3 linked regions of the Homo sapiens genome follow. The protein of the gene in region 3 purifies or fractionates together with the protein of the main gene of each other region. This does not show direct contact. Each region holds a gene or a part of one and is shown on either strand. Other genes may lie near its edges.

The links.
Region 1: the proteins of NMUR2 (region 3) and SLC12A9 purify together in Homo sapiens (affinity purification with mass spectrometry; 2 studies listed by BioGRID and IntAct, with this or other methods). This does not show direct contact.
Region 2: the proteins of NMUR2 (region 3) and LRRC8E purify together in Homo sapiens (affinity purification with mass spectrometry; 2 studies listed by BioGRID and IntAct, with this or other methods). This does not show direct contact.

Annotation. Positions count from the first base shown.
Region 1 is NC_000007.14:100,859,191-100,862,838, forward strand, and holds part of SLC12A9 (solute carrier family 12 member 9), read left to right. Parts: intron 1-694; coding exon 695-852; intron 853-959; coding exon 960-1,042; intron 1,043-1,947; coding exon 1,948-2,072; intron 2,073-2,201; coding exon 2,202-2,394; intron 2,395-2,546; coding exon 2,547-2,721; intron 2,722-3,490; coding exon 3,491-3,637; intron 3,638-3,648. UniProt on the Homo sapiens protein: May be an inhibitor of SLC12A1. Seems to correspond to a subunit of a multimeric transport system and thus, additional subunits may be required for its function. May play a role in lysosomal ion flux and osmoregulation.
Region 2 is NC_000019.10:7,895,010-7,898,657, forward strand, and holds part of LRRC8E (volume-regulated anion channel subunit LRRC8E), read left to right. Parts: exon of another isoform or gene 1-330; intron 331-589; 5' UTR 590-594; coding exon 595-732; intron 733-3,648. UniProt on the Homo sapiens protein: Non-essential component of the volume-regulated anion channel (VRAC, also named VSOAC channel), an anion channel required to maintain a constant cell volume in response to extracellular or intracellular osmotic changes.
Region 3 is NC_000005.10:152,403,055-152,406,802, reverse strand, and holds the start of NMUR2 (neuromedin-U receptor 2), read left to right. Parts: upstream 1-1,523; 5' UTR 1,524-1,689; coding exon 1,690-2,415; intron 2,416-3,748. UniProt on the Homo sapiens protein: Receptor for the neuromedin-U and neuromedin-S neuropeptides.

The sequences.
Region 1 (3,648 bases), on a different chromosome or scaffold from region 3:
CGAACAAGATTGGTGCACCTGGGTCACCAAGGGGAAACACAGGCTGGGGGACTGGGAAGCAGAAACCCAGCTTGTTGGGGTGGAGGGTGGCTACCGGCGATTGACAACCTATAGCCAGCAGCTGCCATGGACCCAGTACTGTTGCAGGCACTTAGCTTGGGAGTGAGGGTGGGTAGTGGCTTTCTACCCAGTTTGCATTTCCACAAATATTTGGCCTCTTGTGCATATACCATTAGGTATGACAGCCGGGTGCGGTGGCTCACACCTGTAATCCCAGCACTTTGGGAGGCTGAGGCAGGAGGATCGCTGGAGCCCAGGAGTTCCAGACCAGCCTGGGCAACAGAGCAAGAGCCTCCCCCCAAATACAAAAATTAGCCAGGTGTGATGGCAAATGCTTGTAGTCTTGGCTACTTGGGAGGCTGAGGTGGGAGGATTGCTTGAGTCCAAGAGGTCGAGGCTGCAGTGAGCTATGATTACAGCACTGCACTTTAGCCTGGGGGTTGGAGTGAGACCTTGTCTCTTAAAAAAAAGGAAGGAATGACCACTGAGTGATTAAATCCAAGGCTGCCCAATGAATACCAGGCATATCCCTTTAGCACATTTGATATCTGAGTCTGATCCTTAAGATCGGGGCTGGAGATTTTCTTACCCCGTGACGCATGATCATCCGTGTCCTCCTTTTCCTCCTTCCTAGGACCCTGCTGCAGGAAGACTATGGGTTCTTCCGCGCCATCAGCCTGTGGCCCCCACTGGTGTTGATCGGAATCTATGCCACAGCGCTCTCAGCGTCCATGAGCTCGCTCATTGGTGCCTCCCGCATCCTCCATGCCCTGGCCCGGGATGACCTCTTTGGTGGGTTCTCTGCCTCCTTGCTGGCTTGGAGCACGCCCTCCCTTGTCTGTCTCTCCGTCCCCGCTGAGCCCTGGCTGATGTGTCTGCTGTGGATTCTGTTTTTCTAGGCGTGATCTTGGCACCGGCCAAGGTTGTGTCCCGAGGGGGAAACCCCTGGGCAGCTGTACTTTATTCTTGGGGCCTGGTGCAGGTGAGCCTTCTTCTTCAAGGGGCCCTTTCCCTCACCCCACCAGCTGGCAGGATGGGGGTGCAGTTAGATGCAGGCTGGGAGACAAATGTAAAGACAAATGCGTATGCACTTGGGGTTGCACTGGCACTCTGCAGGGTTCACTGGCACTTTGTGGGGTTCACCAGCACCTTGCAGGTTGCCCCAGTGCTTTGCAGAGTTCATTGGCACCCTGGGAGGTTCACTGGCACTTTTTGGGGTACACGGGCATTGTGCAGGGTTCACTGACACTTTTTGGGGTATACTAGTATTTTTCAGTATTCACTGGCACTTTGTGGGGTGCCCCAGCACTTTGAGGGATTCACTGGCACTCTGTGGGATGTACCAACACTTTGTGGGGGTTCACTGATACTTTGGAGGTTTGGTGGCACTCTGTGGGAGTGCATTGGCCCTTTCTGGGGATCACTGACATTGGGGGTGCACTTGCACTTTACAGGGCTCACGGGCACTTTTCAGGGTTCATTGACACTTTGGGGTGCACTGGCACTCTCTGGGGTTCATTGACACTTTGGGGGTGCGCTGGCACTTTGCATGGTTCACTGGTACTTTCCAGGGTTCACTGACACTTTGGGGGTACACTGGCACTTTCTGGGGTTCACTGACACTGGGGATACACTGGCACTTTTGGGGTTTAATAGCATTTTAGGGGCTCATTGACACTTTGGGGGTGCACTGGCACTTTTGGGGTTTAATAGCATTTTGGGGGTTCATTGACACTTTGGGGGTGCACTGGCACTTTGCAGGGTTCACTGGCACTTTCTGGGGCTCATTGACACTTTGGGGTACACTGGCATTCTTTGGTGTTCACTGGCATTTTGGGGGTGCACTGGCACTTTGGAACAACGGCACGCCTCTTGGCCCTTGCCCAGCTGGTGCTCCTGGCTGGGAAGCTGAACACACTGGCTGCTGTGGTCACTGTCTTCTACCTGGTGGCCTATGCTGCCGTGGACCTGTCCTGCCTGAGCCTGGAGTGGGCCTCGGCCCCCAACTTCCGGTGAGAGACTCAGATCTGTGTCCCCAGAGAGAAGAAGGGAGGACTCGGGCTCAGGCGTGGGGCTGGGGACTGCAGCCTCGTGTGCGGCCTGCCCTGAGTTTCTGTCCCTCCTCCCCTCCATGCCCGCAGCCCCACCTTCAGCCTGTTCTCCTGGCACACCTGCCTGCTGGGGGTGGCCTCCTGCCTGCTCATGATGTTCCTCATCAGTCCTGGCGCGGCTGGTGGCTCCCTGCTCCTCATGGGTCTGCTGGCTGCCCTGCTCACCGCGCGAGGAGGCCCCAGTAGCTGGGGCTATGTCAGCCAGGCCTTGCTTTTCCACCAGGTATGGGGAGCTGGTGGGGCGGTGGGGAAATGGGAGGTGGTCAAAGAACCCCCTCTCTCTTTGGCTGGAGTTGGTGCTCCCGTCCAGGAGGCGCTGAACGGGGCTGTGCATTTGATCCTGCCACTTCCCCACTGCCTCACCCCTATACCCAGGTGCGTAAGTATCTGCTTCGGCTGGACGTCCGGAAGGATCACGTGAAGTTCTGGCGGCCCCAGCTGCTGCTCCTGGTGGGGAACCCCCGGGGCGCCCTGCCTCTGCTGCGGTTGGCCAACCAGCTTAAGAAGGGGGGGCTGTATGTGCTGGGCCACGTCACCCTGGGAGACCTCGGTGAGCTGCCCTCCCACTCACTCACTCACTCCCATCCTTCTCTCCCCCTACCTTTTTTTTTTTTTTGAGATGGAGCTTCGTTCTGTTGCCCAGGCTGGAGTGCAGTGGGACGATCTTGGCTCACTGCAACCTCCACCTCCCAGGTTCAAGTAATTCTCCTGCCTTAGCCTCCTGAGCTGGGATTACAGGCACACACCATCATGCCTGGCTAGTTTTTGTATTTTTAGTAGAGAAGGGGTTTCACCATGTTGGCCAAGCTAGTCTCGAACTCCTGACCTCAAGTGCTCCGCCCATCTCGGCCTCCCAAAGTGCTGGAATTGTAGGTGTGAGCCACCACGGCCAGAACCCCTCCCCCGCTTTTTTTTGAGACAAGGTCTTGCTCTGTCACCCAGGCTGGAGAGCAGTGGTGCCATCATAGTTCACTGCAGCCTCAACCTCTTGGGCTCAAGTAATCCTCCTGCCTTGGCCTCCTGAGTAGCTGGGACTACAGGTGTGTGCCACCAGGCCTGGCTCATTTGTAGAGATGAGGTCTCTTTATGTTTCCCAGGCTGTCTGGAACTCCTGGCTCAAGCAGCCCTCCCACCTTGGCTTCCCAAAGGGCAGGGATTACAGGCATGAGCCCCGACACCAGCCCCTCTGCCCCTTTTATCCTTTCCCATGACCCCTCCAAGTAGCCATAGCCCTGCCCAGGCCCGTCTGTGATTTGGACTCTAGGAGACATTGAGTTTGGACAACACTGGCTACCTTCCTTTCCTTATCTTCTCTGTAGACTCCCTGCCCTCGGACCCTGTACAGCCGCAGTATGGGGCATGGCTCAGCCTGGTGGACCGTGCCCAGGTGAAGGCTTTTGTGGATCTAACCCTCTCACCCTCCGTGCGCCAGGGGGCTCAGCATCTGCTGCGAATCTCCGGCCTCGGTGAGCTGCTT
Region 2 (3,648 bases), on a different chromosome or scaffold from region 3:
AGTCCCTGCCCCTGGGGCCCTAGTAACCAGAGCCAGGCTCCAGCCGGCTTTTCCGGTTAGAGGTTGGAGGTGGTGCCCAGAGTGCCCCTGGAGGGGGTGGAGGGGCCTACGCCCCGGAAGTCCTGAGCCTTGGAACGCTTTCAGGCCTGGTGGCGGTGGGAGCCGGGGCTGGCCCAGACGCTGAGTGTCTGCAGTCAGGGAGCATCGAGGCAGATGTTTTCAGGCCTTGGTGTCAGGGGTGGGAGAGGGATGCCTCGTTTTGGGGAGGGGGCCACCCGAGGAGGCTGGAGGGCGGCGGCCCTGTGGACTATCCCTCATGTGCTCTTCGAGGTCAGACAAGTCAGATCAGGTGCAGGGGTGCCCAGAGGGGAACAGTGGCCGCTTGGTTCTGGGCAGGTGGTGACGTCTGCATGGAGGGTGACTAAGGCCAGGCTAAGAGGGAAGTGGGGGCACACACTTTGGTGGTTTGGACAAGTTTGGGCAGGGAGGGTCACAGGCCTGCCTGTGTCCGGCTCCTCGGAGGACCCCCTGCAGAGCCTCCCATCCTGAGGGTCTCTCTCTACACCCCCCGTCTCGTCCCGTCCCACAGGCAGCATGATCCCAGTGGCCGAGTTCAAGCAGTTCACGGAACAGCAGCCTGCGTTCAAGGTGCTCAAACCCTGGTGGGACGTGCTGGCCGAGTACCTCACCGTGGCCATGCTCATGATTGGGGTCTTTGGCTGCACCCTCCAGGTGAGGCCCTCCCCTGGCAAGGGGGTGTGACCAGAGGGGCGGGGCAGGTGTCTGGGGAAGTCGGGAAGCCTTCTCATCACCCAAGAAAGAGAGGAAACTGAAGACAGAGCCCCACTCAAAGGCCAATCCAGACCCCTTATCTTCCTTACCTCCATAGCCAGGAGCACCGGAGTCCCCACATTGCTATGCCATTCCATATCTTTTTTTCTTTTTTGAGACGGAGTCTCACTCTGTCACCCAGGCTAGAGTACAGTGGCATGATCTCAGCTCCCTGCAACATCTGCCTCCCGGGTACAAGCGGTTCTCCTGCCTCAGCCTCCTGAGTAGCTGGGATTACAGGCGCCCACCACCACGCCTGGCTAATTTTGGTAGTTTTTTAGTAGAGATGGGGTTTCACCATGTTAGCCAGGCTGGTCTCGAACTCCTGACCTCAAGTGACCTGCCTGCCTGGGCCTCCCAAAGTGTTGGGATTACAGGCCTGAGGCACTGCACCTGACCCTTTCTTTTTTTTTCTTTTTTTTTTTTTTCTTTTTGGCTAAAAAGAGACAGGGGCCGGGCATGGTGGCTCACACCTGTAATCCCAGCACTTTGGGAGGCCAAGGTGGGAGTATCACTTAAGGCCAGAAGTTTGAGACCAGCCTGGCCAACACGGTGAAAACCCGTCCTTACTAAAGACACAAATATTAGCCAGGCATGGTGGTGGACACCTGTAATCCCAGCTACTTGGAAGGCTGAGGCAGGAAAATTGCTTGAACCTGGGAGGTGGAGGTTGCAGTGAGCCGAGATCATGCCACTGCACTCCAGCCTGGGTGACAGAACGAGACTCCATCTTAAAAAAAATAAAATAAAATAATTGAAAATTAAAATAAAGAAACACGGTCTCATTCTGTCATCCAGGTTGGAGTGCAGTGGCATGATCACAGCTCACTGCAGCCTTGAACTCCTGGACTCAAGTGATCTTCCCGCCTCAGCCTCCAGAGTAGCTGGGATTACAGGCACACACCACCACGTCCAGCTAATTTTTAAATTTCTTGTTGACACAGGGGTCTTGCTATGTTGCCCAGGCTTGTCTCGGACTCCGGGCCTCAAGCCATCCTCCCACCTCGGCCTCCCAAAGTGCTGGGATTACAGGTGTGAGCCACTGTGTCCAGCCCCATATTTTCACAATGCTCAGTTTTATCCCTAGAATCTGGAAAGGACTGCAGTTGCTATATGAGTTTGTTACTTCTGTTGTAACAAAGTAGCAGGGATTGAGTGGCTTAAATAACCAGAAATGTTTCCTCTTCTGGGTCTGGTTCTGGAGGCCAGAAGTCTGAGATCAAGGCGTCAGTTGTCAGTGAGGGAGAATCTTCCAAGCTTCCCTCCTAGATTTTTGCAGCTCCAAGAGTTCCTTGGCTTGTAGATGACATTCTCCCAGTATTTTTCTTTTTCTTTTTCTTTTTTTTTTAGACAGAGTCTCCCTCTGTCGCCCAGGCTGGCATGCAGTGGTGCGATCTCGGCTCACTGCAACCTCCGCCTCCCGGGTTCCAACAATTCTCCTGGCTTAGCCTCCCAAGTAGCTGGGATTACAGGCGTGTGCCACCACGCCCGGCTAATATTTTTTTGTATTTTTAGTAGAGACGTGGTTTCAGTATGTTGGCCAGGCTGGTCTTGAACTCCTGACCTCGTGATCAGGATCAGCCTGCCTCTGTCTCCCAAAGTGCTGGGATTACAGGCATGAGCCACTGCGCCTGGTCGAGACAGTTTTTTTTTTTTTTTTTTAAGCAAGCTCTGTCACCTAGGCTGGAGTGCAGTGGCGCAATAATAGCTCACTGTAACCTTGTACTCCTGGCCTCAAGCAATCCTCCTCTACCACCCCCGCTTGGCCCCCCCTCCCACTGCCTCCCAAATCACTGGGATTACAAGCCTGAGCCACCGCACCCAGCCTCTCCCTGTATCCTCACGTCATCTTCTGTCTTTGTGTCTGTCTCTGTGTCTATGTTTCCCCTTTCTCTAAGGCGCAGTCATACTGGGCCCACCCTACTGGCTTTGTCTTGACTACCTCTGCAAAGACCCTATTACCAAACAGGAGCCGCCTGACCCAGCTCAAATAATACCACATTCTAAGGATTCGGAGTTGGGACTTCAACATCTTTTGTGGGGACACGATTCAACCCAGCTCCTTTTCTCAGACAAAGACCAGTGCTTTGTCAGTTGTGGTGGCTCATTCCTGTAATCCCAGCACTTTGGGAAGCTGAGGCAGGGGATCACTTGAGGCCAGGAGTTCGAGAGCAGCCTGGCCAACATGGTGAAACCCCATCTCTACTAAAAATACAAAAATTAGCTAGGCGTGGTAGTGCGTGCTTGTAGCCCCGGCTACTCAGCAGGCTGAGGCAGGAGAATTGCTTGAACCAGGAGGGGAAGGTTGCAATGAGCCAAGATTGCACCACTGCACACAGCCTGACAGAGCGAGACTCTTGTCTCAAAAAAAAAAACCAAAAAAAAAAAAAACAGTGCTTAGAGGTTTAGCAAAACTCTTCCAAAATCACAGCTGGCTGGCAACAGTCAGAGATGGGGGGTGCGGGGGGTCTCCCACCTTCAGCCTGCTTTTTCCCCATCCCCCTCATTTTCTCTCTTTTTTAAATTAATTTATTTTTGAGACAGAGGCTCACTCTGTCACCCAGGCTGGAGTACAATGGCGCGATCTCGGCTCACTGCAACCTCCATCTTCCGGGTTCAAGCGATTCTCCTGCCTCAGCCTCCCGAGTAGCTGGGATTACAGGTGCCCACCACCATGCCCGGCTAATTTTGTATTTTTAGTAGAGACAGGGTTTCACCACGTTGGCCAGGCTGGTCTCGAACTCCTGACCTAAAGTGATCCACTCGCCTTGGCCTCCCAAAGTGCTAGGATTACAGCCCTCATTCTCTTTTGCTCCT
Region 3 (3,748 bases):
ATCATTTGTTACAGCAGCGTAAACTATCTTAACTTGAGAGATGACTTATTCTTGGACAAGTCACTTTCCCTCTCTAATTTTTAACGTCATAATCTGATTTAACAAATAAAGGGAAAAAATTAACATTTAGTGAGCATCTCTTAAGTATAAGTTGCTTCGTTATATATAATTTAATTTAGTCTTCTCAATGACCATAAAAGGTATTATCTCCTGCAAAAATATTCCTAAATCCAAAGAAATCTCTCAACTCCACTGCTCATAGAATCCAAGCCACTACTATGTCTTACTAGCCTCTTACCTACCTTCTGTTAAAATTTCTCCCTCGTTAATTCTCCAGTGCAAAATCTTTTAAAGACTTCTCCCTGCCATTTGAATCAGAGCTAAACTCTCTTCCATGGCCTATAAGAGTTTACATGAACCTGTACCTGCCAGCCACTTCAATCTAAGCATTCATACTTTGCTGACCACTTATTAAATTCCAGTTATTCTGGTCTTCCTGATATTTTTAAAACCTATCCAGCTTGTTTCTGCCTCAGGACCTTTGCACTTGCTATTACTTTTGCTGAGTAATACACTTCCCTTAGCTCTTTCATGACTGACTTCATCATTCAGACCTCAGCTAAAGTGACATCTCCTGAGATAAGTTTTCTTTCACCATCCTTGATAAATAATTATTTATCAATTACTATCTGAAATTATATTATTAATTTATTCATTTGCTTGTGTGTTTTCAGAATTCCCTACTGCAAGAAAAGCTCCACTAGGGCAGAGACCTTGTCTTGCTTGTACACTAGTGTTTCTACAAAGCTTAGAACATTCCCTGGCAAATAGTGAATCCTCAAGAAGTTATTGTGGAACGCAATCGAATTAATGATGCAGATAAGGAAATAAGCCTCTAAGAGTTTGGGTAACTGTGCCAACTTTCCTAAATTTCTATGAGTGTTCCTAATTCTGAAGTCCATTTGCCTTTTGCTTACAGCAAAGCTCTGCTGAGACTGAAGAGTCAGTTAGCAGTCAGGGCTAGGCACTGTGCATGCGCCCTTTCAGGCTTCGGATTCTATCGTTGATGCAGTTAAAACCAAAAAGTCACATTAATCATGTTATCACATTAATCCCCAGAGAACCCTGAATTTCCAGTGGAACAAGATAACTTGAGAAATCTATTGATCTCCTATTTTCATCATGCTGTACGGCTGACAAGGGTTAGTGGAGATTGGTATTCTTTTGCCCATGGCCCTGCAACTTTAATTTCTATGTCTACCCAGATTCCCACAACTTTGCAACCTGCATTGCTCAAAGTGCCCATCCATGAAGTTCGAGTGGCTTCTTTTGTGTCAGCTCTGCCTTCCCAGCTCCTTCCCATTCAGGGAGAGGTCTCTGCCTCCTCCCCTGCTTCCTGACTCGAAGCCAGCACCCCTCTCCTCCAGTGCAGCCTAACACACTCTCATTGGCCCTCAGCCTGTCAAGGGGAGGGGCTTGTGTCTCCGGGGCTCTTCAAAAGGGATCGGCGGTCCAGGCAGCCTAACCTGGAGGGTGAAACACTCACTCTCTCCCAGCCTTCCTTACGAAGCCTGTGACTTTCGTGACTGCTTTCTCTTTTTTGTTTTCCTTTTTTCTTTTTTTTTTTTTTTTCCTGGCTCAGCTTGAAACAGAGCCTCGTACCAGGGGAGGCTCAGGCCTTGGATTTTAATGTCAGGGATGGAAAAACTTCAGAATGCTTCCTGGATCTACCAGCAGAAACTAGAAGATCCATTCCAGAAACACCTGAACAGCACCGAGGAGTATCTGGCCTTCCTCTGCGGACCTCGGCGCAGCCACTTCTTCCTCCCCGTGTCTGTGGTGTATGTGCCAATTTTTGTGGTGGGGGTCATTGGCAATGTCCTGGTGTGCCTGGTGATTCTGCAGCACCAGGCTATGAAGACGCCCACCAACTACTACCTCTTCAGCCTGGCGGTCTCTGACCTCCTGGTCCTGCTCCTTGGAATGCCCCTGGAGGTCTATGAGATGTGGCGCAACTACCCTTTCTTGTTCGGGCCCGTGGGCTGCTACTTCAAGACGGCCCTCTTTGAGACCGTGTGCTTCGCCTCCATCCTCAGCATCACCACCGTCAGCGTGGAGCGCTACGTGGCCATCCTACACCCGTTCCGCGCCAAACTGCAGAGCACCCGGCGCCGGGCCCTCAGGATCCTCGGCATCGTCTGGGGCTTCTCCGTGCTCTTCTCCCTGCCCAACACCAGCATCCATGGCATCAAGTTCCACTACTTCCCCAATGGGTCCCTGGTCCCAGGTTCGGCCACCTGTACGGTCATCAAGCCCATGTGGATCTACAATTTCATCATCCAGGTCACCTCCTTCCTATTCTACCTCCTCCCCATGACTGTCATCAGTGTCCTCTACTACCTCATGGCACTCAGAGTGAGTATCTAGGCTGGGGTGGCCTGAGGCAGCATCCCTTCTTTTTTCACAGGCTCAAAGTTCAGAGAAAAACTTAGAATTGGGGAAATTCAGAAATGGAAGGGAACAGAGGGAAAATAGAATGAGCTCAGATGGGAAATTGAGACTTAAAAGGACTTGCCTCAAATGAGATGAATGGTAACCACAACTATTTATCATTTCCTTTAGCTCGTCTTCTATTTTTCTTCCCTCTATTCTTGGGGTTCTCGTATCTAAATGTTCCTAAGAATCATGCAGAAAACTTACTTTGGGAGCAATATGCATACCTCACCCCCAGGAAAATGGGATTCAGAAGGTCTGAGGTGGAGCCTCATTTTAAATAAGCACATCAGGTGATCTGGGGTGAGGTGGCCACACTTTGAGAGACTTCTCCACATCCTGTTGTCACTTTCCAGCCCCTGGCCACTGCCTGCATTGAGATTTTCCTGTACACCAACTTGGTCTGAGTATAACACAAACTATCCCTGCCTATTTTGTAGTCCAAGATAGGTATTCAGTTTTAAAATCAGACATTTACTGTGGTTGCTCCGACCCTTTCATTAAAATGAGGTTGAAACAAAACAAAATAAAACTATATATATTATATGTATAGTTACATATATAATATATAGTCATATATATAATATATAGTTATATATAATATATAATCATATATATTAATGACATGACTGAGATAACTTGAGCTTCTTTTGAGCAGGTGCAGATTGAGAGATAAGGAAGTAAACAGCACATGAGATAGAGTGAAAAAATGTGAATAAGAGCTTATCTGAAATTAAGAAAAAGATATCACTTATTTTGCAACATATATAATTAGAGGTTCTTTTCCTATGTTTATGGTGGTAAACTGATTTCTTTTTCAGAAGGGGGGTGTCTAAATTAGCTGAGAGAAACTATTTTTAATAAGGGTAGGAATTAGTCTATATAATTCCTCTCTGGTATATTCTGCACCCAAATTCATGAAGAGAAAAGTTCTTCACAATGACAATTTTACACCCACTTAAGGGAGGTATTATAGCTTGTGTAGTAAACAGTTACGAGACCATTTAGACTCCCAGATCTACAGCTGACATATAATATGCCTTTAGGCAAGCCACATCATTCTCCTGGAATTAGTTTTCCCGTGTATAAAATGAAAAGGTCACATCAGATCCTATCTATGTCCCCTGTAGCTCTAACAGTCTATTATTCCTTTAAAAAAAGAAAAAAAAACACCTGTGAGCTGAAGTAATGTGAGTTTTAAATGACAGGACAAACAGATATCACATTCACATCATTTGCTTTGAGATGGCTCTGA